4 separate regions of the Homo sapiens genome follow, and regions 1, 2 and 4 are each linked to region 3. Evidence: fine-mapped expression QTL. A gene starts in region 3. Each other region holds a variant in brackets. All regions are shown on one strand. Distances are from middle to middle.

The links. PIP is the estimated chance that this variant, and not a neighbour inherited with it, causes the effect.
Region 1: its variant is the best candidate, but not a certain one, in a credible set for the expression of DAAM2 in whole blood (INTERVAL, PIP 0.54).
Region 2: its variant is the best candidate, but not a certain one, in a credible set for the expression of DAAM2 in whole blood (INTERVAL, PIP 0.89).
Region 4: its variant is the best candidate, but not a certain one, in a credible set for the expression of DAAM2 in whole blood (TOPMed, PIP 0.71).

The regions. Positions count from the first base shown.
Region 1 is chr6:39,812,027-39,820,069 of GRCh38, reverse strand. All of the region lies in intron 1 of DAAM2 (dishevelled associated activator of morphogenesis 2), which reads right to left. It overlaps LOC124901487 (a long non-coding RNA gene), which reads left to right and starts at 259. Exons shown (of 2, transcript XR_007059917.1): 1 at 259-373. The variant G/A (reference allele first, on the strand shown) is at 3,866.
Region 2 is chr6:39,689,517-39,697,559 of GRCh38, reverse strand. The region is part of intron 3 of KIF6 (kinesin family member 6); the gene reads left to right. Among named protein-coding and RNA genes, the nearest start is that of KIF6, 32 kb to the left of the region's middle. The variant A/TA (reference allele first, on the strand shown) is at 3,435.
Region 3 is chr6:39,788,306-39,796,348 of GRCh38, reverse strand. It overlaps DAAM2 (dishevelled associated activator of morphogenesis 2), which reads right to left and starts at 3,973. Exons shown (of 25, transcript NM_001201427.2): 1 at 3,884-3,973.
Region 4 is chr6:39,825,123-39,833,165 of GRCh38, reverse strand. The region is part of intron 1 of DAAM2 (dishevelled associated activator of morphogenesis 2); the gene reads right to left. Among named protein-coding and RNA genes, the nearest start is that of DAAM2, 37 kb to the right of the region's middle. The variant G/A (reference allele first, on the strand shown) is at 2,985.

The sequences.
Region 1 (8,043 bases), 24 kb before region 3:
CAGTGCTGCTATGGAGGCTTCCACCCCCACGAGCAGAGTGTTGAACATTAAAAACTCCTTCCTCTGTGCTCTCACAAGCTTTGCCCGTTGCTATGGACTGAATGTGTGTGTCCTCTCAAAATTCATAGGTTGAGGCAGAATTCCCTATCTGATGCTATGTGTAGGCGGGGCCTTCGGGATATGATTAGGTCATGAGGGTGGAGCTCCCCTGAACGGGATTCATGCCCTTATAAAAGAGACCCCAGAGAGCTGTCTCATCCCATCTGCCATGTGAGGACACAGTGAGAAGGCTGAACCACCAGACGTCAAATCTGCCAGTGCCTGGATCTTGACTTTCCGGCCTCCAGAACTGTGAGAAATAAGCGTTTGCTGTGTAAGTCACCCAATCTATGGTATTTTGTTAGAGCAGCTTGAACTAAGACATCATCCAAAGTCTATTGTTAGAGGTAGCATCACATTGTATGCTAATTAACTGAGCATCTTTTTTTCACTTTTCTGTCCCTAGCACCTAGCACTAAAATCTTGTGGAGTCAGGCAGCTCATGATAGTAATTCTTATTGTTTGAGAGTGTGTTTGAGAGTGTGTCATAAGTGTTTAGTTTTGTGGGCACTTCCTCATGAGTTACCTCATTTGAACTTCACAACAATGAATAGGCATTAGATGTGTCAAATGTTAGTACTGGAGGAGGTAAGTAGCATTTGAGGTCCTTGTGACTCTGCCCTTTGAAGACTAGGTTTGCCCAGATGGACCTGAAGGACTGGCCAGGCTCCCCAAGCCCATTTTCAGCTGGGCCAGACTCTACACCGTCCCTGCCTTCCACAGGCCTCCCTGTGCTCCAACCTAACATCCTCTTGTCCTCAGCTTCCCTCCAGCCAAACAGAAAGCCAGTGGGCATAGAGATGATGGTGATGCTCACCAGCTGGGGTGTAGCCTGCATTCTCTGTGAGTTAGTGCATGCAAAATGGCCAAAGCACTGATGAGAGGCCACATGCCACATTTTCAAATAAGAACCCAGAACAATTCTGCCAGTTTTGTGGAGGAAAACCCTGTTATACATCCCTGAGGCTGTACCCCCTGGCACTGGCATCACTGAAAAAGGGTGTGGAACAAAGGCACACAGAATGTCAGAGCCAGAAGGAACCTTAGAAATCACATTGCTCAACCCCACTCTAGACAAGGAAATGAGGGCCCACACTCAGGAGAGGCTTGTCAGAAACAGTGACTCAGTAGCAAAAAACACAGAGCGACAGCTGGCTCCTGAGCCCTTTCAGATGATTCCGATCCAAGCAAGAAAAAGGAACCTAAAGAATTTATACTAAAAGGAGGTCACAAAGGCCAAATTAATTGCAAGGCATACTTCAATTACACAGCACACAAATGGGCTTTAAATGCAACATCACACACAGAAAACATGTTATAAAGAAAACAATACAGAAGAATAACAGGACGATGTTCAGTAACAGTGTTCAAATTTAGTCACCCTGGAGGCCAGGCCATGCTACAACCCATGTTCTTCCATGACCTCTGCTACGAATGAATTGAGCAGGTAGAGCTAAGTCTAACACTATTTCTGCATTGTGTTAGTAGAATGCATTAACGTCAAAATACCACAGATTAATACTTTCTTTCATCCTCAGATAAAATAATTTATAGTTGTTCTAGTTGTTGGTGCTTAGTCAAATATTGTTGGTCCCCACCCCCGATTACACACAGAGGATGGTACTTCCTGGGTCCTTGTGTTGGGTGGAGTCATGTGGCTAACTTTGGCCCATTCGCTGAAAATATGAAGGGTTAATTTTATGTGTCAAGTTGGCCATGGGACCAGGTATTTGGTCAAATACCAGTATAAAGGTTACTGTGAAGTTTTTTTTTTTTTTTTTTTTTTTTAATTGAGATGCAGTTTCACTCTGTCACCCAGGCTGGAGTGCAGTGACGCCACCTCGGCTCGCTGCAGCCTCCACCTCCCAGCTTCAAGCGATTCTCCTGCCTCAGCCTCCCAAATAGCTAGGACTACAGGCGTGTGCTACCATGCCCGACTAATTTTTGTATTTTTAGTAGAGCTGGGAATTCACCATGCTGGCCAGACTCGTCTCAAACTCCTGACCTCAGGTGATCCACCCACCTCGGCCTCCCAAAGTGCTGGGATTACAGGCGTGAGCCACCATGCCCAGCCAGAATTTTTTCTTTTTTTAACATGAGATGAACACTTAAATCAGTAGACTCTGAGTAAAGCAGATTACCCTCCATAATGTGGGTAGGCCTCATTTGATCAGTTGGAGGCCTTCAGAGAAAATGACCGAGGTCCCCCAATGAAGGGAACTCTACCCCTAGACTGCCTTCAGTCTTGAGCTGCAACATCAGCTCTTTCCTGGGTCTCCAGCCTGCTGGCCTACCCTGCAGATTTTTGACTTGTCAGTCCCACAACCATGGGAGCCCATTCCTTAAAACAAATCCAGATATATGTAGAGAGAGATCCTATTGGTTCTGTTTCACTATAGAACACTGATGAACAGAAGCATCATTAGTGGTCTAGAGCTTTTAATTGTGAGGACCAGACTCCCTTTTCCTTTAGAACAGCAACTGCCAACATTGAAGACAGGGCCTGTTCTGCCAGCCTCAGTTCCTGAGGGACTAAAACAAGCAGAGACCCTCTGTTGATCCACTACCGACAGATAACATGAGTAAGAAATACACCTTTGTTGTTTTCAGTCACTGAAATTTGGAGATTGTGTGTTATTACGCATAATCTTTTACTGACTGAAGTGCTCATTGTTTATCTTAGATTTAAGACATTAGGGGGCAAGGAGAGAAACCCAGAAAAGTAATAGAATCATAAAAGGATTTTGATCCTGGCCTCCCAGAAAGACTCCCAGGCACATGGCCCTTCCTCCAGCTGCATAGTTTCCCTGTTGTGTATGTTGGGATCCTGGGAGTCTTAACCCAGAATCCAGCCACAGTTGTGTAAGTGCATCAAAGGTGCGATCTCACTGCTGAAACTTCCCTAGAAAATGTTCAGAGCTCTGCTGAGGAATCTGACCTGGGCCTAGGATGGGAAGCCCTCCAAAGAACAAAAGTTTCCACTACGGCAACAAGAATGTTAAACACGATTTTGAAAAACTTCTCAGCAAAAGAAATGTGATGATGAGTATTTATAAGCCAAAAACCAAAGGCCATTCCCTAGTTCCTGTGAGGTTTCCCGCCACACGGGGAGCGTTAACAGGACTAGAGACGGTACTGGAAACAGACCTGGATGTCCTTGGCTCCACTGCAGATGGGTTAAGTGTGGAGCCTTTGAGAAAAAGCAGTCACAAAGTGTTGATGATTCTCCTTGGAAATCAAGGGTGATCCAGAGGCTGCTGGGACTCCTCCATACCTTTCTTCTCAATGAATAAATCCAGGCCCCTGAACTTAAATACAGAGGTAAAGTGTGGGGTAGAATAAGATATAATGGACTTGAACTATTACAGGAACTATTTAGCTGAGACCAGCAGCTCTCAAAACTGGGGGTGGCTACCCATCACACCCCCTGCCCCCAGAGACATTTGGCAATGTCTGGAGAAGTTTTGTGGTTCTCGTAACTAGTAAATGTTACTGAGATCTACTGAGTAGAGGCTCGGGGTGTTAATAAGCCTCCTATATACAAAAGATAGCCCCCCCACAACCAAGAATTATGTGGCCTAGTATCAAGATTGAGAACCTGTGGCTGTGATCAAATCCCTAGTTATGAGGGTGTGAAGGTTTAGAACAAGAGCAGGAGAACATTTATAGAGCAATATGCCCCATTGCAAAAATAAATACATTGCAGTCAAACTGTGGGACCTCAGATAAGCAGTATCAGCATTACCTGTGAACATGTTAGAAATGC[G/A]CAGCCTTGGGCTCTGCCCCAGACTCCTGGATCAAATTCTTTCTCAAGTATTTACTAGAAAAAATACAACGTGTGATTCATATACCTATAGAGAAAAACCAAAACTATCACTAAAGCATCCTGAGAGGTAGCACAGTTCATGTCAGTAGGAAAAATAAATCTTCATTGCTACTCTTCTCCCTATGAGGGAGGAATCCAGCATGAGAATCAGGGTAGAAGGTCCATTCTTTAGAAGTTGTCTTTGGATTTGCAAAGTGAACTGAGGAGCAAAGTTGAGGAGTGGGGCTGGAGAGTAAAGACAGCTGAATTACTCAACATAATAAAGAGGGGGACCTGTTTGAGTGAGTTGCTTGTGAGCACCAAGGGAGAGAGGAGGAAGACCAAATGGTGTAACCTTTGGCCAATCTATTTTAGAATAAGCTTATCCAGTGCTCAATTCTGAATTGTTGTAATACAAATACCCTTGGTCTCCCCAGACCTCCATAAAGTTCACCGCATTCATGAAGCCTTGTGTAAACGGTGTGTGTGTGTGTGTGTGTGTGTGTGTGTGTGTAAACCAGGGGTATGGGAGTAATTCCACATCTGGGTCAACACAGTGCAGAAGAGTTCGTGGTTTGCATGACACCAATAAGAGTTAATGTTTCCTGTGAGCTTACTATGTGTAAGGCACTGTTAAACTGTGTTTAACAGACACAGTTTCATTGAAGGCTCACAGCTGCCCTATGGGGAATACCATGGTTATTTCATATTAGGGATAAGAGGTCTGCAGCAGAGGGAATTTATGCCACTTGCTCAGGGACACCCATACAATGAGTGAGCCTTAGAGACAGAATTGAAATCTCAGCAGTCTGGCTCCAGAGTTCATGTTAATTTCTGGGCCACCATGCTTGTCACCTAGGGGTAGTTAATAATCTTAACGAATTCAGTGGAAATAGGAACTCAGAGCCAGAGGTGATGTGAAAAATATAAGCCACCACCACTTATTTTGGAATCTCCAGACCAGCAGTTCCCAGGCTTCAGTGTGCACCAGGATCACCACGTGAGCTTGATAAGACACAAATCGCTGGGCTGCACCCCTAGAGCTTGATCCAGAAGCCTTGGGCAGAGCCCAGGGATGTGCATTTCTAAGAAGTTCACAGGTGATTCTGATACTGCTGGTCTAAGGTCCCACAATTTGAGAACCACTGCCCTCTGTTTGTGGCAGTGAGATTCAGCTAATTTATTCTGAATCTCAAAGACAGGGCTCCTCGGGTGACATCTGGTCACAATATCAATGACTGAGTGGCTCTGAATTGAATCAGGCTAATACTGAAGAGAATGGAGGAGGAGAGGGATGAGTATCCAGTGGAATTCAACCTGGAAAACTTCCTGGAGGAAGAGCCACGTGGTGAGAACAGATGCTGAGGTTACTTATTTCCTCAAATCTCCTTGATACACACTCCATACAGCAGGGCTCAGGCATTTGAGTTCCACAGAAATGGTGGGAGGGCACCCCTTGTTCTTTGGTGAGTCAATCCAGAAAGGCTTAGCAGAAAGTGAGGAATCAGGAGACATTCTCTTCCATGGAACTAGAAGCTGCCTAGGACAGTGGTTAGGAGAAAGATGAACGCGTTTGAATTGCAGCTCTGCTGCTGTGCCACATGGATCTTACTCCAGGTCCTTAGCTGTTCTAAACTTTAGTTTCCAAATCTGTAAAACAGAAAATCAGTTGTATGTGAAGTGCTCACCACAGTGCTCACCCAACGCCAACGCCAACCCCAACAAAGGCATCAGAGCTCCATCTGTGGCCAGGGAAACCAAGCCAAGGTCAAAGGGGAGGCTGGCTTTGTTACTGCTCCCAACTCACATAGGAGCTGGGAGGTTGAGGTTTAGATGCTCTTCATCTTCTGTCATTTAAAACAGGGTGTCTAATCTTTTGGCTTCCCTGGGCCACACTGGAAGAAGAAGAATTGTCTTGGGCCACACATAAAATACACTAGCACTAACGATAGCTGATGAGCGAGAAAAAAAAAAAAAGAAAGAAAGAAAAAGAAAACTTAAAAAAAATAAAACCTTGCAAAAATCTCATAACATTTTAAGAAATTTTATGAATTTGTGTTGGCCCTCATTCAAAGCCATCCTGGGCCGCATGCAGCCCATGGGCCACGGGCTGAACAAGCTTGATTTAAAAGATCCTCCATCCCACAGGGTATCAGCTGGTCTTTTAGGGCCCCTTTCCCCCAGTTCTCAGTTTCCTCTCTACCAAACAGTGGCCATGACCCTTTTCCACACCTCACTTGACTTATCTCCTCATTTACAAAGTTGGTAATACTAACCAGAAGATAAAACCACAATACAAAACTGTCTAACATCTGCACATATAATATGTATTCAACCATGCTTTTACAATGTATGTGGAGAGAAAAGACTGGAAACATTAACTGCCAAATGTTAAGTGACCTGGGAAGGCAGATTCTCCAAGTGTTGTTTGTGGCCAGGTGGGAAGCTGTGGGAAAGGGGGCAGAGGAACAGAAAGATCAAAGTCTCTTTTCAGTGCCCCGTGATGGGCTCATGAACTAATTTTATTTTTGTCTTCTGCTACTATGTATTTTGTATAATAAATCCATGTTTCTTTTATAATAAAGGAGAGAATTTTTTTTAAAAAAAGCAACTTCATATCCTCCTAAAGCTTTTCTTGATTATAACTCACTCCACACACACTCTGCTCACTCAGCTCACGTGCTTCCTCTTGGTGCCTGTCCTGTTTCTAGCCTATGAATTTGCATAACGCAGCCATAAGAGGTTGCTTTCTAAATGCTTTCGAGCAGATTTCCTATTCATTTACCTTAGATCTTCTGGTAAGCTGAGCTGCCCCAAAGAGGAGGGAGATGCTTCCTCCTAGTGGAAGAGCAGCCAGACTCATCGCCTATGATTCACCCCCACCCCAAAAACTCACTAGAGGGCTCTTCAAACAGTAAGTGGTCCATGCCAAAAGGAACTGCACAGAAAGTGGCCTGTAGGTGAGGAGAACTGTGTACACATACATACACACACACACGCACACACACACACACACACAATCTGCCTCTTCTTTCCTTCTCTCTCCAGAGGAAAATGTCATCCGGTTAGTGCCCTCAGATGAACTGGGAAGGCAAGCTCCCCGGTTGTGGTTTGTGAGGGGTGGGTGGCTGGGGAGGGGAGGTGTCAGGGAGAGCCAATCCACTTCCATCTGGCACTGAAATCTACACTTATTTTCCTGGACTGGACTACGATCCCCTTTCCCAATGTGAGGAATCGTGCTTTCTTGGTGACACACACTTTCCCCCAAGAATGCTTGGCTTTTCAATGAGGAATTCTTATATATTTGGGATTCTTGGAAACAGGACAAAGACTAATGAATTGCTGGCTCTATCCTAGGTTTGGAAACCCTCTAGAACTCACAGGAGCTGGAGGAGGACAGAGGCAGGCAGGAAAAGGGAGTTGAGGGTGTGTTTGCAACAGAGGGGAGGGTGGCAGGATTGAGATGTCAGATTAAATTGTTTGAGTTACAGGCACTCCAAAAGCTACCTGCTGACTCCACAGTCAGAGGTCACCATCCACACTAAGAATAGAAGGCTGACAGGGGCAGGGTGGGGAGGCGGGGGATACTGAGTGTTTGTGGAGGCTAGAGAGTTATAACAAAGCAGAATTCAGGTACAGTCGATTGTCAAGTTCATCATGAAGTGAAATGATTGGGGTACGGTACAGAAAGCACGGGTCTTAGGGTCAGGCACACCTTACTTGGAATCCCCTCTGTGCCACAAACTAGATGTGCAACTTCAGGAAAGTTGACTAAATTCTCAGAACCTCAGTTTCCTCTTCTATAAAATGGGATAATACCCACTTTGCAGAGCTGTTAGAATGAGATGTGTTGAAATGTGCAAGGGCTTAGCCCAGTGTCTGGCACCTAGTGAGCCCTCCATACATGGTAGGTATTATTTAGAGAATTTGAATTTGAAGAGTAGGAGTGTATAAAACCCTTCATAGGAGAACAGCTGCAGAAGGTCTGACTGCCGTGGGTCTGGCCAGGGAGTGGGAAGACCTAGCTCCCGGGGTCCGCAGCAACCAGGCTTATATTCCCCTCCTAACATGCTCTTTGGTAGCCTTTGTTAGTTCTGGCAGGTTTGGGCTATGCACCCTGCCCTATGCCCCAGATACAA
Region 2 (8,043 bases), 99 kb after region 3:
AAAGAAAAAAAAAAAAAAGAAAGGATAAAGAAAAATGGTTAGTCTAATATTAGTCTTGAGATCTTTTTCAATGACAAGAGATGGAAACCCCCTGCAAAAGGGAATTTATTGGCTTACATAACTGGGAAGTCTAAAAATATGTTGACTTCAGTCTCAGTTTCCTCCATGTGGCCGACAGCACCAACCTGATAGGCTTATGAACCACGACCCTTAAGACAGGACATTGTCCTTTCTACTAGCTTCAGTAGAATTTCCATATGAGGATTCTGGAGTCACATCCCCATCCCCAGACCAATCACTGTCACTAGAGGCATGGAGCACTCTGATTACCTTGGCTTCCTCAACCTGATTGTCAGTCCTATCTGCACCATTTGGAAATAGGGAGAGGTTTCACCAAAGGACAGAAGTTGGTGATGCCAGAGAAGAGAGATAAGAAAACAAACTTGGCAGATAAACCTCCGCTTTGGGTTAATAGGAAAAGTAAACAAACCCAAATCAATTAGAAGATACCTAGGAGATATTTCAGGCTTGAGGACTTTTAGAGATGACTATAGAAAATAAAAAAGAGTAGGGCTTGTTCACATTTTGGCTGTACCTGTGGCATCTAACAATTTTTTTTTTCTAATTCTGCCATCTGTCTAACCATGGGAGGTTTACAGATACCTATACATTTTGAGTTGATTGTAGTTATACTAGATTTAAAAAAGAGCTAACATGTATGAGGTTCCTACTATGTTTCAGGCTGTGAATACTTTGAGATGTGTGTGTGTGTGTGTCCAGTATTTACACTGTACACACACACACAAACTTTGAGATACACAGACATACACAATATCTCAAAGTATTTACAGCCTGACACCTAGTAGGAGCCTAGTTTATGTTAGCTGTTTTATAATATATATATTTATATATTATATACTGTACACACACACACACATTCTAGTTGAAATCTGTGAGGTGTAGATTCATCAGTGAAGAAAAACTTAAGACAATAGTGACTTAAAGTCATAACCACTTACTATTTCACATACAAGAAACCTGCAGGTAGGCAGTCCAAGGCTGTATTGGCAGCTTTCTGGTCACTAGGGACTCAAGCTCCTTCTCCCTTGCCGTTGCACCATCTTTATCACATCAGCTTGTGACACAGGATGGCCGCTTGAACTCCAGCTCAATTATGCACCTTCTAGGCAACAGGAAGGAAAAAGTGGGAGAAGAAGTTTGGAGCCCCTCATTTTTAAAGAGAATGTTTAGTACTATTATTTTTAAATTTTAGATTCAGGGGTACATGTGCGGGTGTATAACATGGGTATATTACGTGGTTCTGAGGTTTGGGCTTCTAATAATTCCATTGCCCAAGCAGTGAACATAGTACCCAACAGGTAGATTTTCAACTCTTGTTCCTCTTCCTCCTTCCTCCCCTCCACTCCCCCTTTTTGGAATCCCCAGTGCTTATTGTTCCCATCTTTGTGTCTTTGTATACCCAATGCCTAGCTCCCACTTACACGTGAGAACATGTGGCATTTGATTTTCTGTTTCTGTGTTAACTCACTTAGGATAATGCTGCTGCAAAGGACATGATTTCATTCTTTTTTATGGCTGTGTGGTATTCCATGGTGTATATATACCACATTTTCTTTATCCAGTCCACCGTTGATGGGCACCTGTGTTGATTCCATGTCTTTGCCATTGTGAATAGTGTTGTGATGAGAATACGAGTGTGGGTGTCTTTTTGGTAGAATGATTTGTTTTCTTTTGAGTATATACCCAGTATTGGGTTTTCTGGGTCTAAAGGTCATTCTATTTTTAGTTCTTTGAGAAATCTCCAAATTGCTTTCCACAGGGGCTGAAGTAATTTGCATTCCCATGAACAGTGTAGAAAGATTCCCTTTTCTCTGCAACCTTGACATCTGTTATTTTCTGACTTTTTAATAATAGCAATTCTGACTGGTGTGAGATGGTATCCTATTGTAGTTTTGGTTTGCATCACTCTGATGATTAGTAATGTTGAGCATTTTTTATCTTGGTTGCCCATTTGTATATCTTCTTTTGAGAAGTGTTTGTTCTTTGTCCACTTTTCAATGTGGTTGTTTGTGTTTTTCTTATTGATTTCTTTAAGTTCCTTATAGATTCTGGATATTAGTCCTTTATCAGATGCATAGTTTACAAATATTTTCTTCCACTCTGTAGGTTGTCTGTTTGCCCTGTTGATAGTTTCTTTTGCTTTGCAGAAGCTCTTTAGTTCAATCGTCAATTTTTGTTTTTGTTGCATTTGCTCTTGAGAACTTAAGTTATAAATTCCTTGCCTAAGCCAGTGTCTAGAAGGGTATTTCCTAGGTTTTCTTTCAGAAATTTTATCATTTGAGGCCTTTCATTTAAGTTTTTAGTCTACTGAGTTAATTTTTGTATATGGTGAGAGGTAGGGGTCCAGTTTGATTCTTTTTCATATGGTTAGCCAGTTTTCCCAGCACCATTTATTCAATAGGGTATCCTTTCCCCATTGTTTATTTTTGTTAACTTTGCCAAAAATCAGTTGGTTGTAGATGTGCAGCTTTATTTCAGGAGTGTCTATTGTATTCCATTGGCCTGTGTGTCTGTTTTTGTAATAGTACTATGCTTTTTTGATTACTGTAGCCTTGTAGTATAATTTGAAGTTGGGTAATGTGATACCTCTGGCTTTATTCTTTTTGCTTAGGATTGTTTTGACTCTTTGAGCTTTTTTTTGGTTCCATATGAATTTTAGGATAGTTTTTTTCTAAATCTGTGAAAAATGATGTTGGTAATTTGATAGGAAAAGTGTTGAATTATTTGATTGCTTTGGGCAGTATGGACATTTTGGTAATATTGATTCTTACAATCCATGAACATAGAATACTTTTCCATTTGTTTGTATCACCTATGATTTCTTTCAGCAGTGTCTTGTCATTCTTCTTGTAGAGATCTTACCTCCTTGGCTAAATCTAGTGCTAGGTATTTTTTTGGTGTGTGTGGCTATTATAAATGGGATTGCATTCTTGATTTGGTTCTCAGCTTGAATGTTATTGGTGTACAGAAATGATAGTGATTTTTGTATATTGATTTATGTATTCTGAGACTTTGCTGAAGTCATTTATCAGGTCTAGGAGACTTTCGGCAGAATCCTTAAGGTTTTCTAGGTATAGAAACATATCATCAGTGAAGAAATAATTTGACTTCTTCTTTTTCTGTTTGGACGCCTTTTATTTCTTTCTTTTGCCTGACTGTTCTGGGTGGGACTTCCAGTCCTATGTTGAGCAGGAGTGGTGAGAGTGGACATCCTTGCCTTGTTGCAGTTCTTAAGGGGAATGCTTCCACCTTTTGCCCATTCAGTATGATGTTGGCTGTGGGTTTGTCATAGATGGCTTTTATTATTTTGAGGTATTCTTTTGATGCCTCATTTGTTGAGGGTTTTTTTTTTT[A/TA]CCATGAAGGGATGTTGGATTTTATTGGATGCTTTTTCCATATCTATTGAGATGATCATATGGTTTTTGTTTTTAATTCTACTTGGTGAATCACATTTATTGATTTGTGTATGTTGAATCATCTTTGCATCCCAGGAATAAGATCCAACTGATCATGGTGAATTAACTTTTAGATGTACTGCTGGATTTGGTTTGCTGGTATTTTCTTGAGGATTTTTGCATCTATGTTCTTCAGGGATATTGGCTTATAGTTTTCTTTTTTGTTGTGTCTTTGCCAGATTTTGGTATCAGGATGATGCTGGTTTTGTAGAATGAGTTAGGAAGGAGTCATTCCTCCTCAATTTTTTGGAATAGTTTTAGTAGAAATGGTACCAGCTCTTCTTTGTACATCTGGTAGAATTCTGCTATAAATCCTTCTGGCTCAGGACTCTTTTGGTTGGTAGATTTTTTTTTTATTACTGATTCCATTTTGGAACTCATTATTGGTCTTTTCAAGATTTCTGTTTCTTCCTGTTTCAGTCTTGGGAGATTGTGTGTTTCTAGGATTTATCTATTTTCTCTAGATTTTCTAGTTTATGTGCATAGAGATGTTCATAGTAGTCCCTGAGGACCTTTTTAAAGATAATTATTGACAGTTACACACACCACATAGAGCTCATTAGCCATAACTTAGTCACATGGCAATACCAAGCTGTAAGTGACTCAGGGAAATGTAATTCTTTTAGTTGGGTGACAGTGTACCCAATTAAAATCTGGGGTTTTGTTACTAGAGAAGGAGAGAATAACTACTGGGAGGCAGCCAGGCATCTCTCCCTCACACTTTATCTCCTAAGATATGCATCAAGCATTAGTTATTGAGCTGGAAGACCTTGTGACTTGAGTTAGGAAAGTCTTAATATCTCTGGATTTGTGCTACTGTGGTGCCCTTAACAGCTCTCTTCCTTTCCTTGTTTAAGGCCTCAGTCAGACGAGCTAAAACAAAGTGGCTCCTGGAGGATATTCTCATAGTACCAACCTCCCAGGGGCATATGCGTACATTGATCTGGGCAGCGCAGCTGTACGCCAGTTCCATGTGTGACCACTACTGAGTCATGCCCTTTCATTACCACCTAAGTGAATCCATTCTTCCCTGAGGGAATTGATAGGTGAGAGTTGTTTATGATAGTTATATTTTTGATGCTGAGAGGCTACTTCATTTCTATCCTAACTAGCAGGTGCATTGCTATATGACTTTTAAAAGTGAGGCTTTTTTATATTAAGTACAGTATACTCTTCTCTAATGAAAAAAAAATATGGAGGATAACTCTTCTGTTTCATCTCATGTATTGCAAATCCTTTAAGGACGAGTAAGAGTACAATAGGGTTGTTTATTAATTAACCATCAGTAAATTTATCAAAGTATAGGTATGGTAAAAATGTTTCTCCTTAGAAATTACTTGACAAAATAAGTAATGAATGGAGGTTCAGAAGTATCTCAATGATATAACCATCATTCTATCACAGTTTTAGCTTATTGAGGAAGTACTTGGCAACTTACCTGATGTTGTCAACCTAAGATTAGAAGTACCAGCAACAAGTGAGTGCAAAGCTTCCACAATGTAATTCTTCCTGTGCGTGATTCTGAATATCTATTATAGTGACCTCAAACAAAACCAGACTGCACAGTGTCTCCATGTGACCATCATGTTATGAAAAGAATAGCAATATTTACTTTGGGGAAAGTTAGGTGATTGTTTAAAAGTGAGTACAGACAAGCTGATTTTCTTTAGTTTTAAGTTTGAGCTTTTGTTGGTTTCTTGCTCTACCAAAATATTGGAAGATAAAAATGAGAAGAATCAGGGCAGGGGAGACAGGTTTGTTTGCAAGTTCTTTATTGACCAGGTTGAGATGTTCTGAGGATGATGATTTACGTTTTTTCTGTACACAGTAAAGAGTTATTTCCTGAATGCTGAAGAATCTATGTTTTTGTTTTTGTTTTGAAACGGAGTCTCGCTCTGTTGCCAGGCTGCAGTGCAGTGGCGAGATCTCAGCTCACTGCAACCTCCGCCTCCCACGTTCAGGTGAAGAAATCTATGTTTTTATCTGGAGTAGTATCTTCCAAATGTTTTCCCTTGTATTGTTAATTAACACGTTAGTCTTGATTTGTTCCTTTTGGTTTGTTTTTGTTTTTTAATAGAAATGTATCCTGTATTCTGTTAAATTGGCCACGGTGTTACACGGTGACTGTAAGAAGTGAGAATTCATATCTCATTTTCTATCTCAGTCCTACAGGAACTGGATCAACCCAGCAAGTCTGCAGTTCCCAAGGTCTTCAGGATGAGGCACCAGTGCAGTTATGTAGTATTTTTCCGCCAAAGTGATATGTTTTAAACTGACAGATTTTCATTGTTCCATTTGATGCTAATATTTTCTTCTAACAATAGCTTTTCTCTTAATGATGCCTTTTACTTATGTAAACATGTTTTTCTCATAAAAACTTAAATAGTCATTTTGCTTTTTATTAATGGAATCACCACCAAGCAATCTTTATAAGATTGTCATTTATATGGCTACATTAAATAACACAGTTCTGTTTTCATACATAGAAATTCTAATAATATAAAAAATTATGTAGCCAAAAATATTGAAACATTTATACATGAAAAGCTTGAGTCACAGAAACCTAGGGTTGAAAGGAACTTCAAGGTCTTTAGCCTTCCTCCAAGAAATATAACTTACAAAAGTGAGCAGAAGTTTTTATATATTCACTTGCCCTTAGGCTCTTAATTTAACTCCACACTGAGCATTTTCGACACTGACTTGTTTTGAGAAAGGTTATCATAAGGGAGCTTTTCCGTTTCTGCTACCTCAAATGCGTGTATCTTTTTTCTTAGCCTTTCTTCCTTTACTCTTCTCTCAGAAATATTTCTCTTTACTATCCTTACTACATGGAGCTTTGTTTCCAGCTAAGTTTGCTTTTTTCAGAAGTTTATCTCCTAATTCAGTTCCAACCAGGGTTGCCAGATTTAGAAAATGAAAAATATAGGACTCCCAGTTAAATGTGAATTTCAGATAAATGGTGAACACGTTTTTAGTATAAATATGTCCCAAATGTTGCATGGGTCATACCCATAAAATTATTCATTGTTTCTCTGAAATTCAAATTTAACTGTATTTTATTGGACAACCCTATGTAAAACCCTTATGCCTGCAACCTTGTCTGTAAATTTCCTTTGCTGAAGTTCACATCTCCATCAGTGCACTGAACTACGCAGAGGACACTCTTCTGTGGCTGCATTTTCCTCTGCCTGCAGCCATTTCCATCTGGATCCTGCTCTGTTCTCCCCTTGCTGGTTTCTCAGCTTACCTGCAGTCCCCCATTGGCCACTCTTCTTGAGCTGTCTCCTGTTGGTGGCACAGCAGTGTTTATTATGCTTGACACTCCTAGGTTACCTTGAGTCCTCCTTTACTCTTGTCCTGGACAATAACAATTCCTGTTCATTCTTCTTCCGCAGGGGGATCTTTCCCTCCTTCCCTCCTCATCTTTACTTCCCCTTCCCCTTCTCCCTCCTGTCTGTCCCTGCTTGTCTGTTCCCTACACTGCCCTCATTCAGGTTTCTGCCCACCCACTTGCCCACCCAGCCTCCTGCTCTAGACACTCCCTGTCCAGGCCATCTTGCACTGCCTGGTTAATCATTCAGAAATATTGTACCAATTCTACTCTTTCCCTCCTTCAGTGACTTACTATTGTCTGCAGAATGAAGTATAAGTTCCTTATTCAAGGACTCATATGCAGGAACTTTCCAGAATTGTCCTCTTCCTATTTCCCTAGTGCCATTGACATCGTTACTTTGCATCAGTGCCTACCACCCTTTCCGATACTCTCACTCTTTCACTATAATATATTATTGAAAACTCCCTTCGGGAAGTTTTAAATTATGTAATCATTTGGCATACAGATAAAAGGAAGCATTATTTTAGTTTATATCACTGTATTAGTAAATGTTACATTATATAGTTTATCCTAATAAAATGTAATAATATTCACATTATATAAATAGCAAGAAATGTTTTGACTTTTCCCTATTTAGCAAATGACACACACTTTCTTGTATTTGAATTAATTAGATAATTAAAAATGTGATTTTTAAATAAAATTTAAAATGGCACCTTTCATTATGTTTGGCTTCATAACCAAATATATACTGAAATGTACATTATTGTTAACCTGTACTGACTGGGTGCGATGGTTGACACCTGAAGTTTTTAATTCCGGCACTTTTGGAGGCTGAGGTGGAAAGATTGCCTGAGCCCAGGAGTTTAAGACCAGCCTGGGCAACATAGCAAGACATGGTCTCTACAAAAATTTTAAAAATTAGCTTAGCATGGAGGTGTATGCCTGTGGGTCCAGTTACTTGGGAGGCTGAGTGGGGAGGATCCCTTGAGTCCAGGAGGTCAAGGCTGCAGTGATGCAGTGAGCCATGTTTGTGCCACTGCACGGGCCTGGGTGACAGAGTGAGACCCTGGCCCTCTGAAAAAAAAGAAAAACAAAAAATAAATTATATGACAGCAGAATTCATGACTGACCTGATGTTTAATGCTTGCATTTTGCATTTTTATTTATTATTAT
Region 3 (8,043 bases):
TGAGCCTCTTAAAAGCTTAAAAGTCATCCCAGGCCATGGTTAAAGAGAGAGCTTGAACAAAACAAAAACAAATGTGATCTTCAAAATCTTAAATGTCAACTTGAAGGATAACTTACAAGCTTTGAGATGGGCCAAGAGGACCTGCAGCTGCTCTCTAACATCAGATGTTCCTTTGTTCCTTTGGAGTAGTCACTCCCTTGGATAATGTATCAATCAGGGTTCAGGGGGCAGCCTCCCACCCCATACCCACTGGAGATGTTTGCAATGACTAAAGCTTTCATTCTTTACAACCCATCAGATTCCCCCATTACTCTGACCTGAGCACCCTTGACAAGGAGTGGCTGCCTACCCGCTCTCTGACTCAGGCTTGTCCTTCAAGATCCAATTGGTCCTTGACCCTCCTGCCCTACCCCCACCTCCCTACCTTTCCCCTCCCCACCATACTTATACAACCTGCTCTTCTGTCCTTCTCCCTCCCTAAAGAGCACAAACACAAGAGTGATTTCTAGGCCAGACATCCAGGATCCCTGGTTTCTTCTCCCACACTTCAGGATAATGGACCAGGGATGCTCATGGAATATCTTCATTGGTCACCTTTTCTAGAGGAAGGAAGTAAGGATGATCAGAGCCCTAGAAACTCCACCCACTAGCCTTCAATCATGGAAAATATGTAGCTAGATTTGGGGAGAGGTTCTTTCCAAGCAATACTGGCTTGTGATGGCTGAAAAACTGAAAAATAAAAATACAGCACTCCCTTTATGAAGGGTCTTATAACATTCTGAGCTCTGTTCTTAGTTCTTGTGCATAAATGTTTTCATAATGACCTGGGGAGGGAAATACTATCCTTATTTTACAGATGAGGAAGCTGAAGCTCAGAAGGAATAAGTCATGTAGCCCAGGTTACTAATTCGTATTTAGGTCACAGTTCTCTCTCTCCAGGCAGCTGATCAGAAATCTGCACTCTTTCCATTGTTGTCGGGCTGCCTCTGAAGTCTAGGGCTGAATGACACAGGATCCTTGACAGAGTCTCTGGCTGTTGAGATCTAGAGGGTCATCCGCTATCAAAGCCAAGGATATCCTTCAACTTGTTCTTTCTGCCAGCTGTGTTTGCCCTCTGGACCTTCAAGGATGTCTTGGAATGCATCCCATCTACTTAATCTAATCTCAAAGATGACCAAAGAGCTGGCCAGAAGATTGAACTGATAGAATGAGCCATGAGAAGGCTTCAATGTCAGCCTAGGCATCCATGGCCTGGGAATTCATCCCGGCCATAGTGAAATGTCTCCTAGTACAAGCCCAGAAGCATCAGGACTCCACTGATCCCACATGCAGCACTCCCAGAAACCCCACATGTAGAAAGAGTTGAAAACCCAGTTCTTGCCCCTCACCTGTCCCTGAGGAGTTGTATGCTGGGATAAGAGTATTTCTGGGAATCCTGTTCCGAGGGGTCCCTTCTGTCCCTGGGTAGTCTTCTATGTTTAAATAATGGAAATGAATGAGAACATTTAAACTTGTTACTTCCATTGGCTCTAGTAAAATCAAATAAGAAAGCCTCATCTTTCATTATCTCTATGCTTTCTCTACTGCCTGTACTTACCCTTTATCTTCATTCTTTACACCTGGATCCAAGGCTCTTTAGTAATGGGGAGTTTAATCTGTTTTGCATCAAAAACTTTGGAGACAGTCGGGAAAGAAGACTGGGGAGAGAACATGTTCTCACAGCAAGCAGTAGTATTTCAACTTCCTCCACGCTCACCAAAAACAAAATCATTTACAGGCCTTCCTATTGGTCTTGCCTGCACAGCCTCCGCCTTCTTGAGCCCCTGACTCTCTAAGTTCTAATGCCCAGGAGAATGTTCTCTCCTCTTTTTGTCCTGATGGGGGCACGAGTATTCCCTCAGCATCCGAGGCGCTGGAGGAAAAGCTCTGAAAACTCAGCTGGGAGTTAGGAGCCAGAGTTTGCAACTACCAGGGAGCAAGACAATAATAGCACAGTTGTTTGCATAAAGGAAGAAATGGGGGTTAGATGGAGTTCCCAGCACAGATGAAGAAATAGACCATTTATCCTCCCATGTCTAAGGCCATGGCCATCACCACACAGTCATGTATGTGTAAAAACACATAGGCATGTGCATCTCATGGGGACCAGTCACTCCTGTTTACATGCACCCTTGTTTACATTGCCTATGGGATGATTTCCTCCTCCTTCATTACACTTCAGTTGACAACGTACTCCTGAAGTTAAATGAGTCTGTTTCTGACATTGCTGCCTGCTCCATCTTTTATGGAGCTTCCCTGGGGTTCAATTTATATAATTTCTAAAATCCTTCCTGAATCTTAACTTCCTGTGGGTCTGTTTTTACATCCAGATTTCCTCCCTGTCCCTTCATTTTCTCATTTTTCTAGGACAGAGGGAGAGTCCAGTAATCTTCCTCCCACCCAGACATTGTAGGTTGGCTCTACTGCAAAATACAAAACCAGAGACCTGGCTAGCTCAAAGCTGAAAATTCAGTCTGTCTGTGGTCACTCGTTTGTGGAACCCAGCTATTGACAGGCAGTGCCTGGCACTGTGCTACTCAGGGATGATGGATCGATACAGCCTCACTGCTGCTTTTTTCCCCTACTCTCCGTGGAGCACACTTTCCGCCCTAGGCCCTAGGGAAAATCCATCCCCCGCTTCAGCTGGCTTTGCAAAGAAACTCAGGAAACTAACACCAAACTCAGAAGGGGGAAAACACAAGACTTTGAACTTTTTAAAGATGGGAAGCTGCTTTCATTCCCACGTGGGCATCAAGGGAAAACCTATGGGGACTCTTTTCCGGAGAGGTGTGATTTTCCTCTAACCCTCCGAGAAACGTTCCAAATCCACTCCAAAACTGTGGAGAAGTGGCCGAGGCAGAGAGAGAAGAGTTAAATCAAGCCCAGATCTCAGCAATCTGTGTTCAATTTTGATAAAAATCTCCCTCTCCCCCACCGCCCCCCTTCCTCCACCCCACAGCTCAGACACGTCTCTTTATGTTAGGAGCTTGCATCTTGTTTGGGGCACCACACGCGGCACTCCTGGAGAACCTGGCACGTACCTCACCGTGGCCATGTGGCAGAACCAACCATCCCACTCCCAAGCTACGGCTGGACACAGGGCCACAGCGTCCTGGCCATCACCACCACCTCCCCCTCTTCCTTCTCATCCTCTTCACAAAATTACCTGCCGCCAGACCAAGTCCCTCATTCCCCGGTTAAGTCAGAGTCCCGACGCCTGGTAAAGTCAGGGCATGAGGTTGGTTTGCGACCGCAGGTGCTGAGAGCCCCAGAGTCCGGGGACCCCTTTCCTGAGATGCTCCTTCCCCCGCCCAGGGTCCCACTGCCACTGAGAACAAGAACCTTACGGCTGCCCTGCCCACTGGCCAGAGGCCAGGCCTGCAAGTGGGAGCTGGGGGCTTGTGAAGACTTCAGCCCAGCCAAGTGAAGGTTCAAGCCGAACCCGGAAAAGCCACCACCAAAAAGTTGTCAGTTTTGCGGGGTATCTTCTGTGTTTGTCCACTTGTGACAACCAGGGGTCAGGTTTCAAAGCCGCAAAAAACATTTTTAAAAAGTTTTCCAAAGACATTTCCTATGTCCAGATGTGCCAGTACAGACACACGCAATCACACTCATACACACACACAACTCACACACACACAGGCCCTGGGAGCCCACTCCGGGGTCGGCGGCTCCTGCAAACACTTTGGAGAAACAAAACCGCCAGCCTGCGGAGCTGCTGCCTCCCCAAGCCCCGCGGGGCATGCTAAAGAAAGCAGAGGGAGAGAAGTGTGGGAGCCCAGCGGAGAGGGCTCCCCGCGGCCCGGGCCCCAAGACGGGGAGCGCCAGGGCCGGCCGCACTTACTCCGAGGACCCCAGGGCGCCCGCGCTCCCGCAGCCCGAGGTACGGCGCCGCCGCCCGCGCTCCGCTCGCTGCTGCGTGCTCCGCGCTATCCCCGGGAAGCCGCGGCTGCCGCCCCTCCAGGCCCGGCCTCGCGCCCGTCCGCCCGCCCCGCTCTGACGTCAGGCGTCTTGGAGCGGGATATTTATGGCAAGGTTACTCTGAATTTTCCCTAGGTAGACTTCTGATTGCAGTTTCTTGGGATTTGTAATTTTCACACTTTCAGACCGAACGCAGGCGGGGGGAGAGCGCCACCGGCAGGGCGAGGCGTACAATGAGGGTAGCTGTTCCCCACTTTGGCAGGGAGCGTTCTCAGGGCCCCTTCTGTTTTGGAAACATGGAAGGGTCAAAGAGGCAAAAGTGGCCACCTGGGCAGCGGGTTTCTCCCCGGCTCCTCCTCTGGGCTACGGGCAAATGGCCTGGTCTGAGGCCGGCTCGGAGGTGAAGGTCCCGGTGCCAAGGAATCCCCTGTCCCTCCCCAAAGTGTCCCTGCACTGGACAGTGTGTCCCAAGGGGTGCTGGGCAAGACAGGAGCGAAATCAGGCACAACAGAACAGCTAATTAGGAGTCCTGGTCCACGCCCTAACAACTTTTCCATTTCTTTTTTGGGAGTGTATATATATTTTTTTAAGTTTATTTTTATTAAATTATGTTCCACACTCCCTGCCTCTGTATAGCTTTTCCAATTCAGTGCCAGTCAATTCATCTTACTTCATTGCTTGTATGCATAGTTTGAGCAGTTTACAATAGCTCTTATTCATACTTTTAAAATTTCCTTTTAGTTTTTTTTTTTCTTTTTTTTTTAAATGTGATTGTGGTCTGTCTCCTTGACTGAACTAGAGATTGCTTTGGTCAAGAGCAATTGTCCTCTCTGGGATTGGCAACACCCTCACGGGGAGTATTTGATCTTCTCTGTTTCCTATTTTCCCCAGCTCCCTCTGCAAGCAAATGGTGCCCCCACTGGGTGATGACCTGTATACAGTTTTCTGGGTGTTCAGTGGTTGTTCTGTGTTAGTGGTTGTCTGTTTCTCCACCTCACCAAAGGGGCTTAGGGAAATGGCTTGGTTTAAGGGCCACCCTTCCAGAGAAAAAAAGAGAATGTAATGCATGATCTTCCAGAGGAAAAAAAAAAAAAAAAGAGAATGTAATGTGTTATCCTTCATGGTTCCCAAGGATTGGAGAATGAAATGAACTTAAAATGATACACGTGAGATGCAAAATACTTATATGGTTAGACAACATAAGTGTTTAGGTATTCATCTCACCATGAATGGGAGGGGGCACGGATAATTGCAAATCATCATTAAAACACAACTATAGTGAACTTTCCATTAGCCCAAACTGGTAGAGGCGGGGTTGTGTTTTAACCACAGTTACAGTGCAGCAGGGACTCAAGGACTTGGAATGTGTTTACCTCTTTGGCAGCAGCTGGTTAGAGCTGATTGCCAGAAGGAGCTGTCTTAGGGCTGGGCCTCTCGGTAGAGGCCACGCTGTTTTGACCCAAGCCACCGAGGGCCCTGCAGCAGGGAGCTGCTGTTTGGTCACTGTGGGATTGCTCTCCCTGGCATAATACCCCACTTTTACCTCCTTCCATTCCCTCTCTCATATCAAGGCTCCACTGGCAAGGTGAGCTCTGTTCTTCAGCAGACCCTGCAAATAGGTTTCCAGAAGCCATTGACAAACCCATTCTCCCTTGCCTTTCTCAACTAAAGAAGTTAGAAATCTACAATATTCACCATCCCAGACTCCCTGGTAGCTCACAATTGCTATGAGACCAAGTTCTGACCAGTGAGATTGTAATACAGAAGACAGAGGATGCCTTCCACAAACTCTCTTTAAGAGAAGATCAGATTTGGCCAGGCGCGGTGGCTCACGCCTGTATTCCCAGCACTTTGGGAGACCGAGGCGGGCGGACCACGAGGTCAGGAGATCGAGACCATCCTGGCTAACACGGTTAAACCCCGTCTCCACTAAAAAATACAAAAAATTAGCCAGGCGTGGTGGTGGGCGCCTGTAGTCCCAGCTACTTCGGAGGCTGAGGCAGGAGAATGGCGTGAACCTAGGAGGCGGAGCTTGCAGTGAGCCGAGATTGCGCCACTGCACTCCAGCCTGGGCGACAGAGCGAGACTCCGTCTCAAAAAAATAAATAAATAAATAAATAAATAAATAAATAAATAAATAAATAAAAACACAAAAAAAGATAGGGCCAGAGACTCAGAGGTGGCAGGTTGGGGACATCATGAGGACAGAAACAGGGGAAGTGAGGCTGAGGAGCAAGCATTCTAGGTCTGGGAGAGGGGAGTCTCTCCATCCTTGCCCAAGTGTTTTGGAGGCAGGGTCTCTCTCTGTCACCTAGGCTGGAGTGCAGTGGCACGATGATAGCTCACTACAGCTTCGAACTCCTGGGCTCAAGGGATTTTCCCACCTCAGCCTTCCCAGTAGCTGGGACTACAGGTGCATGCCACTAGGCCCTGCTAACCTTTTTTTTTTTTTTTTTTTTTTTTTTTTTTGTAGCGATGTGGTCTTGCTATGTTTCCCAAGCTAATCTCAAATTCCTGGTCTCAAGCAATTCTCTCAACTCGAGAGGCCGAAGCGCTGGGATTACAGGTGTGAGCCATTGCGCCTGGCCCCCAAGCATTCTTAATTGGGTTCTATTGGGATGAGGAGCAAGTGAAATTCATAAAATACGTGGCTGTCAGTGCTGAGGAGCTGTTTTTGAGGTTGGCAAGCCCTGAAGAGTCCATGAAGTAGTAGGGCCCACTCGAAGATCATCTGATTCACTCCCTACCCCCAGCCCTATCACTCACAGGGTCCTAATGTGGGAGTCTCTCCTATTCTCAAGATTCCCAAGAAAGGGGTTTCATCCTTCTTCACCTGCATATTCTAGGAATGTTCCCGGAACATACAGTGAGGCCCTCTGTAGCACACTACTCATCTGGAAAATTGTACCTGCTTGATGAAAGATTCTCAAATAGCACATTATGGTTGACCTGGCTTCCAAAGCTCACTATATACTTCCAAGGCCCAGCCTATCATGATAAGAAGCAGGCTTCACAAAAGTCACTTGCTCACTCTCCAGGGGTAGAGATCCTAGTCTAGTACAGCATGGACCACAATAGCACTCCATAAAGACTTTCTGAAGAATAAATGAAGGCCCCATGAATATGTCATCTAATCAATATGTGACTCTCCGCAAATAACATATACCTTTCTCTGATTTACTATTGTGGACTATAGCAAGTGTTTGAACCAAAGACCTTGGTTAAATCCCAGCCCTGCCTCTCACTGCTGTGTGACCTCAGCATGGCAGGAAACTTTCTCAAGCATAGTTTTTGTGATGGTTAACTTCATGTGTCAACTTGGCTGTGCCACAGTGCCCAGATAGTTGATCAAGCATTATTCTGGATACTTCTGTGAAGGTGGTTTTGGATGAGATTAATATTTAAATTGGTGGACTTTGAGTAAAGCTGAGTACCCTCCATAATGTAGGTAGGCCTCATGCAATCAACTGAAATTCTTAATAGAACAAAGACTGACCCCCACCCCGCAAGAGGGAACTGTGCCAGCAGACTGCCTCAGGACTCCAACTGCAATGCTTCCCTGGGTCTCCAGCCTGCTGGCCTACCCCTGCTGGTCTACCCTCCAGATTTTAGACTACCAGGCCTCCATAATTACATAAGCCAATTCTTTAAAATCAGTCTCTCTCTCTCTCAATATTCATATACTACATCCTGTTGGTTGTTTCTCTGAATCTCCTATTAGTAGGAGAATCCTAAAAAATACAGTGTTCTTCAACAACAACATGGGATGAAAATTATTCCACCCTAAAGTATTGTTGTAAAGTTCAAATGAAGCAAAATAAATTGAAAGCCTCTACCTCAATAAGTTCTTCTGAAACTTGGAAGGAAAAGGATGCCTCAAAATTTCAAAGTCTTTTTCATCCTACCACTTATGTGGTCAGTATCAATCTGCTGGCTCTTAGACTCTGTTCAGGGAGGTGTCAAACTTTGTTATCAGGTGTGCTGTTAATGCCTAGAAGGCAGAAGCAACTTGTCTTGAACTGGACCCCATCCAGCACAGACACATCACACTTCAGGTATTTTGATCATGAGCCTGATCCTGGG
Region 4 (8,043 bases), 37 kb before region 3:
AAGAGAGGAGGGGGTGGTTTGCAGTGTCATTAGAAATAACTCAATGACTTGGAGAATTTCAGAATAGGGTGCAGGGTTGGGGAAAGGTCACGTGGATAAACCCTGCCTAAACCCAGCTCTGAGCAAACATGGCTGGCAACAGCTGAGGAAGTTACCTGGGGGCTGCCCTCGGGCCCACCCATTTAGAACCCTCACATCCCAGACCAGCCACTGGACACCTGGGCCCTCCAGGAGTGGGTGGACGTCCTGGCAGAGCCAGGAGCCTGAGGAAGACCTAAGCTTCAGCAGTGGGTGCCAAGTCTACCCTCAGAAGCCCTGGGGACCGGACCAGACCTGGCCCCTTCAATGGAGTTCAGCACAGAGGCCCAAGCAGCAGAGAGAGCAAGGTACAGCTCCGTGGAGAACTGCAGAAACCCTGCAGCCCCCAGGCCCTTCCCTGGTCACCAGGAAAATACTGGAGCTTCCCCAGGAAGCCAGACCATTCAGGGGAGGGGCACTGGGAGCTGCCCTCACAGGAAGTTTGAATTTTGACTTGATGGGACCTCGCTCCAAAGCAACTCATTTAAATCAGAGACTAAAGTACCTTTATTTTTCACACTAAGTTTTTCATTGAAAATTATCCATTATAAGAATCAATTACTTTTTCCTGCACAGCTGAGTGTCGTTATTCATGTTCGCTGCCCAGTTTAGTAAGTCTTCAATAAATATGAGCTGCTATTATGTCATCAATCATCATCACCACCACTAAGTGGGTTATTCCCAGATAGACAAAAGGAAGGGAAGAAGAGGACAAGAGCAAAAAACAGTCCCACTTTTGTTTCAGATCTGAGTCCTCGGAGGGCTCAGGGAGGCTGGCTGGCATAGGAGGAGAGGGGAGAAGGGGAGCCTCTGGGACCCCCTCACTGGGGAGCTCATCCTCTCCTTATTTGACACAAACTAGTCAAGCCCCACTTTCACCCAGGTTTAACTGCAACTGACCTGTCGGCCCCTCTACCCTTTCCTCACCAAGGGAGCTGCAGAGGAGTGAGCACCAGTGCACCTGCCTCCCTAGCGTACCTGTCCCCCCAGTACACCTGTTCCCCCAGTGCACCTACTCCCTCAGTACACCTGTCCCCGCAGTGTACCTGCGCCCCCAGTGCACCTGTCCCTCCAGTATACCTGCCTCCCCAGTGCACCTACCCCCCAGTGCACCTACCCCCCCAGTGCACCTACCCTCCAGTGCCCCGGCCCTCGCACTGCATCTGCCCCTTCAGTGCACCTGCCCCCCAGTGCACCTGCCCCCTCAGTACAACTGCCCCCTCGGTACACCTGCCTCCCCAGTGCACCTACCCCCCAGTGCTCTGGTCCCTGCACTGCACCTGCCCCCCCCCAGTGCACCTGCCCCCTCAGTACACCTGCCTCCCCAGTGCTCCTGTCCCCACAGTGCACCTGCCCCCTAGTGCACCTGTCCCTCAGCGTGCCTACCCCCCAGGCCACAGACCTGGACTGTTCAGGTGGGGTCTTACAAGCCTCTTGACCTTCCCACCCATTTACTGTCTTTGTGGCCCTGGCAGAGGCCACACAGAGGTTAAGAGCCAGAACTCAGGAGTTAGACTTCCTGGGTGCAAATCCTAGAGCTGCTTCTTATCTGCTGTGTCATCTTTGGCAAGTTACTTAACCTCCCTGTGCCTCAGTTTCCCCATGTGAAAATGAGAATAATAATAGTAATCTGCCTCAAAGATTGTGGGGATTAATTGTGGGGATTAATTTAGTGAGTCAGGTACAGTGATTAGGGTAGCACCAGGCACCTATTCAGCACTAAGTGTGAATAACTCACACCCTCTCAGTGAGGTCTTTCAAGGGCATCTGAAATAGCAGCCCCGCTCCCAGCACCTCCCATCTCCCTTCCCTTCATTTTCCACGTAGACTTACCACCACCTGACAGACTATACATCCCATGTATTCATTATCCCTCCCACAAGAATGTATATTCCATGGGGCATTTTTGTCTATCATTCATTGCTGTATCCGCAGTGACTAGAATTACTACCTGGTACATAATAGGCCCTTGTAATAAAGAAGGAATATATGAAACTTACTAACTGTGTAGACTTAGGCAAGTTACATAACTCCCCACATGCCTTAGTTTACTCATCTGAGAAATGGAGATGATGCCCACACCCTCACGTTGATGTGAAGATTAAATGAGGCAACATTTGTAAATATGCCCACTCCGGTCCTTGGTACATGGTCGACCTGAGAGGACCAGTTTCTGCCTGATGGAGGAAGGGCCTGAAATGGTTAATCCCTGACTCTCCTCCCCCATGCAAAGCTGGTCCGGACTGCAGGGCCACTGGCAGCTATCCAGGTGGAGGCTAAATGTCAGAGGTGTGTGCCTGCAGAGCTGCCCTGGTCCTGATGCAGTCTTGACCCAGGCAGCTGGAGCCCCTCGCCACCCCCTCCTGCTGCCTGGGCCTGGAGCATTTGGGAGTGCAGGAGCAGAGTGGTGGGAACCTCCGCAGGCCTGGGTCCCACGCCACATCCTGGCCTTGGGGGAGGTGGGCCCAAGGCCTGGACTTGCTTCCCAGCTATTCCCAGGCGGCCCTCTCTCCTGCTGGCCCAGCTGCACTGCCTGAGCCGGAGGGCCACAGGGGTAGGTCTGTCTGTCAGCATCACTTGTCCCCACTCACGATGAAGAAGACGCAGGCCTCAGCACAAGCACAGTCTGGACTCAGAGCCCCACTCTGTCAGCCCTGAAGCCCACCTGCCTCCCTCCCTGGGAGGGAGTGCGTGGAATGACAGTCACAGAGGACTCACCGGACCCCAGCGACTCCAGCCTGTGGCTTCCCAGATTTCTCCAATTTCTCGCAATGCCCCAGCTTTTCAGCAACTTCTCTGAGAGTCATGCCTCTCCATGACGGACCCAGAAAAAGATGAAAATAGATAGACACAGGCTTCAGTGTGAATGCTGAAGATGAAATAAATGCAGTCCAGCATTGCCCCAT[G/A]GGCATCCACTCCACAACCATCTATGAACCCCCACTCTGGGCCAGACACTGTGCACTGTAGGATGCGGCAGTGAATAAAACACAGACCTGATTGTAAAAATCTCCCAGTCGGAAAGGGGGTACAAATGTGAGCAGGCCGGGGTAGTGGGCAGAAGTATCTTGGTGGAGCTGTACAGGGAATGATGAGAGTATGGATGAAGGGTCTCTAACTCAGCGTGGGGAAGGAGGGAGCATGAGAAATCTAGAAGGGTGGTACCAAGGTGCTTCTGGCCAGCAACAACTTGGGGGAGAACAGAGGAGCTAATAAATGGAGAAATGATATTTCCCACCAAGGGGCCGGCTCAGAACGGCTCTGGGGAGGGTGCCAGCTTCAACTCCCATCCTCCCAATCTTCAAGCACTTTTACCAGAAACTAAGCCCTCTGAGGGCAGGGACCAGGTTCAGTCTGCATCCCTAGAATGAGGACAGGCATATATGGCAGGCACTGAGTAGAAATGTCTGAGTGTGCCAATGAATAAACAAACCCCTGAAGGTAAGATCACTACTGACCCAGGGACATGTTGCTTTTTTGTTATCCCACAGACATTAACATAAATTTCTATTGCCCAATTTCCTCTTGGTAAGTGTAAGAACCCTCACAGGCTATAAACTCTCCAACTGGTGCCAAATGAGGTATCACTCAGCCTCCAACACAAGCCTCTTAAGAGGGAACCAACCATGGGGTTCTGTCCATCACCCTGAGTGCTGCCAGCCTCCCCATCGATGGTCACCACAGTCACACTCCTTTGGTACACCCTGGGAAAAGCCGCAAGAATCACACACCACTGAGGATAATGGCCAGAAAGTCACTGCCAATGTTTGTGGCTCAGTATTTACAGAAAAACAGGATCATTCTGTGCTTGCTACCCACAACCAGTCATAGGCGCATGTGCAGGCCCATCCACACACCCTGTGTGGAACACACAGCCCGCTCCCCAGGCCCCTGCCATCAACAAAAGTATACAAAGAAGAGATGCCAATTGGATTTATCTGTTTAAACAGCATCCCGTGAAGCTGGTCCCTGGGTGAATTATCCAAACAGTAACCATTCTTGCTTCTTTCTTAAAGAAAAACTGTAGAGAGCATAAATTCTCCTTGCATCTCTGCTATTCATTCATGCAGCCAATATTTAATAAGGACCTACTATGCGTTAGCCCCTGCTAGTGGAACTGTGCTATGGTTTGCATGTCTGTGTTCCCTCCAAAATGCATATGTTGAAACTTAATCTTTGTTGCAATAATACTAAGGGTGGGGCCTTTTGGGAAGTGATTAAGTCATGATGGCTCTACCTTCATGAATGGATTAGTGCATTATAAAAAGGCGGGAGGCAGAGGCGGGCAGATCACAAGGTCAGGAGATCAACACCATCCAGGCCAACATGGTGAAACCCCGTCTCTACCAAAAATACAAAAATTAGCCGGGCATGGTGGCACGCACCTGTAGTCCCAGCTACCCGGGAGGCTGAGGAAGGAGAATCACTTGAACCCGGGAGGCAGAGGCTGCAGTGAGCTGAGATCGCACCATTGCACTCCAGCCTGGCGACAGAGCAAGAATCCGTCTCAAAAAAAAAAAGACGGAGGGGGGTGGAGGGAATTAGCTTAGGCCCTTTTAGCCCTTCCATTCCTTCTGTCATGTAAGGACACAGTGTTCTTCCCCTCCAGAGGAAGGAAAGGAACACAGACATGCAAACTATAGCATAGTTCCACTGGCAAGGGCTAATGCATAGTAGGTCCTTATTAAATATTGGCTGCATGAATGAATAGCAAAAATGCAAGGAGTACCTATGCTCTTTACAGTTTTTCATTAAGAAGCAACAAAACACCACCTTAGGAGCAGAGGGCAGCCCTCACCAGACAACAACTCTGCTGGCACCTTGATCTTGCACTTCCCAAAGTCCAGAACCATGAGAAATGTTGTTTTGGTTTATAAATTACCCAGTGTGTGGAATATTGGCACAAATGGACTAAGACATACTAGAAATGCAAAACTGAACCAGTCAGGGCTTTGCATTCTGGAAGCTAATAGTCTAGCGAGAGTCAGACAGAACAGTGGTTTTCAAACATTGTGCTCAGTGCTTCATCAGGGACAGGCCTGTGGGAGCACAGGTGAGAGGGAACCCTACTACCTGAAATTGGTGGGGAGGAGGAGGCGTTAGAGAGACTTTGTAGGTGTGGTGATTTTTGGGCTGAGTCTCCAAGGACAGCGAGGCGTTCCCCAGGTATGAGCCTTCAGGTAGCAGGGAGGGCAGGAGTTAGAAGTGTGAGCGGCAGGGCAGGCAGAGCTTGGGCAGCTGGCAAGATGACCCAAGAAGTACTCCAGGGCTCAGACATGAAGGGACTATACCCCTTGAATTCTGAAACTGGGTTTGTGATTTTCCAGATTCCCCTTTGGTCCATTAAGAGAGTTCATTCTCAGACCAAGGGGGTCAAGGGGTATCACACTTCACACAAAGACAGAGACCCTGAAGAGTAATCCAGGCATGAGGACCCCAAGGAAAAGAGTCAGGGAGAATCCTCCAGCCACTGTTTCTGAAGCCCAGGCCCCTGCATCCTACCAGGCCCGGGGGCACCTCCATGAGCCCACACACACAGAGCCAAGGCGTGAGTGAGGGCCACCATTCCCTGGGGTGGTGAAGCACCATTCCACAAACCCAGACCCAATAATCAGACTCTGAAAAAGACTACCCCCGCCCCACTTCAGCTCCTGGATAGCTGTGCCTTCCCCTCTTGAGATGTCACACTCCCCACCTGTGTGCAAATGGACTCAACTCCTCCTTTCTCCGACATGATCTGCAGGACGCCCCTCATACAGCTGCTGGCATGCACAAGACGTTGAGAATGAAGGTACTACCATTTAAAGACCGCTTTACAGGCGAGAAACTGAGGCCCAAGAAGCAGGCTACTTGCCTCAGGACCCACAGCAAACTCATGCCACAGCCATGTCTAGAACCCAATTTTCGAATTCACAGCACAGAACTCTTCTCTCCCACTACAGAACAGTCGCAGACAAATTCTGCTTTGCTTCCTGGTTTCTCCTGAGTTTCTACTTAAGTGGAAACAACAACTACAAAAATGCAATATAAAAACAAAAATTAAAAATTCCAAAAATCTTAGCCAAGATTCATTCATGAATATTTCCCCTAAATATTGTGAGCCCTGCTAGGATCCAAGCTACACCGCCTCTCTCTTTAAATATTCTCAAATACTCCAGGAAACTGATTCCCAACTTCTCCTGATTTCCTCACCTCAGATTTTCTCTTTGAAGCTTGAAGGGTACTTAGAAACTTCTCTTTAAAAAGAGAAGGTGCTCCTGACAGTCATTCCAAGACATTTGGATTTGCCAAGTTGAAGTTACAGAAACCTGTGACTATGCATACTAATTATTATTATTTGCCTACCATTAGTATGCTTTTTCACATTTCACATCTGATTTTTTATGTACATTTTTCTTAATTTTTGTGTGCAAACAGTCCTAATATGAAGTGAAAAAAATCACTGGCAAAAGGAGAAAAGCAAACAAACTAGCCTGGTGTCCAGGGATTCAAGAATTTCAGGAGGATCGTGAGGCAAATTGGATATGTTCTCCAGGAAAGGGGAGCTATTGGGCATATCAGCTACACAACCGATCACCTGAGGATTCCACTGGAAATGAAAAAGAGAGAAAGAGAAGGAGTCGAGAGTCCCCCAAAACCCTAAGTGGCTTCTCCCCAGCTTTAGGACACCACAGGGATGCTCACCTTTTAAGAGACTTGCTTTCCTAGAATAGCCCCAGCCCCTCACTTTGGGATTGTGCTGTGAATGACAAAGTACTCATGGCAGGGAGCCCAGAGAGTTCCAGCAGGTAAGGAGAAGACCCTCGAAAGTAAAATAAAAAAAAAATCTGCTACTAACTGGCAGTTATTTGAACTAGTTATACCAGAGACCAGGAGCAGGCCGCACAATCGCTTCTTCCCCAGGGCTCTTCTCCTAAGCTGAGAAGATGCCAGCCGTGTGTTTATCATTTCTCCCCACTATCTTTTAAGGCAGCCACATCCCAAGCCAGCAGGCAGAAGCTGGACCAAGACACATGTCCAATGGGGAAGGAGGCCAGGTTCACTGCACTAGGCATGAAATACGCCTTATCTCATATTTGCCAACACACCTGCACCATGGGGACACATAAAATGTGAACCTCATTCCCATTTCCCATTAGAAATTAAGAGATTCACAAAGCCCAAATAATGTGTGCTGGGCCATTTAGCAATGATAGAGCAGGACTGGGTCTCCCTCCAATTCCATTCTACCCAAGAGGTACAAGGACCACTGCATGTAGTGTGCAGGCTGTGAACTGCAAGAGAATCCCACATCCAAGGAGATACATGAGCCCACCCTGCCTGCAGGGCTTGTACACCTGGGAAAGAGTACACTCAGTACACTCAGTACAGATATCGGGGTGCAGAAAGCCAGTCCCACCTATGCTCCCTTGACTCCCCCCATTCCCACCTGCCCAATCACAGCCACGGTGGGAGCAGGGGAAGGACATATCTTATCCCTGGTACGATGGAGAGGGTGTGTGATCAGGTGACAGGGTGATTCTGTGAGTGAATGCACAGCCAGGCTCAGGAAAGTGCCCCCCAACACACACACACTGGCAGAGCTGGGCTACTTTACAGGAGTATGCTTAACTATGTTTCCTTCAAGAAACAAAGGCCCCCCACCAACCCCCCGACCTTGTGTTTTGTTTTGTTTTGTTTTGTTTTGTTTTGTTTTGTTTTGTTTTAAACAGTCTTGCTCTGTCACCCAGCTGGAGTGCAGTGGCGCAATCTCAGTTCGCTGCAACCTCCACCTCCCGGGTTCAAGCATTATCCTGCCTCAGCCTCCTGAGTAGCTGAAACTACAGGCGCACACCACCATGCCTGGCTAATTTTTGTATTTTTAGTAGAGAGAGCGTTTCCCCATGTCCGCCAGGCTGGTTTCAGACTCCTGACCTCAGGTGATCTTCCTGCCTTGGCCTCCCAAAGTGCTGAGATTACAGGCGTGAG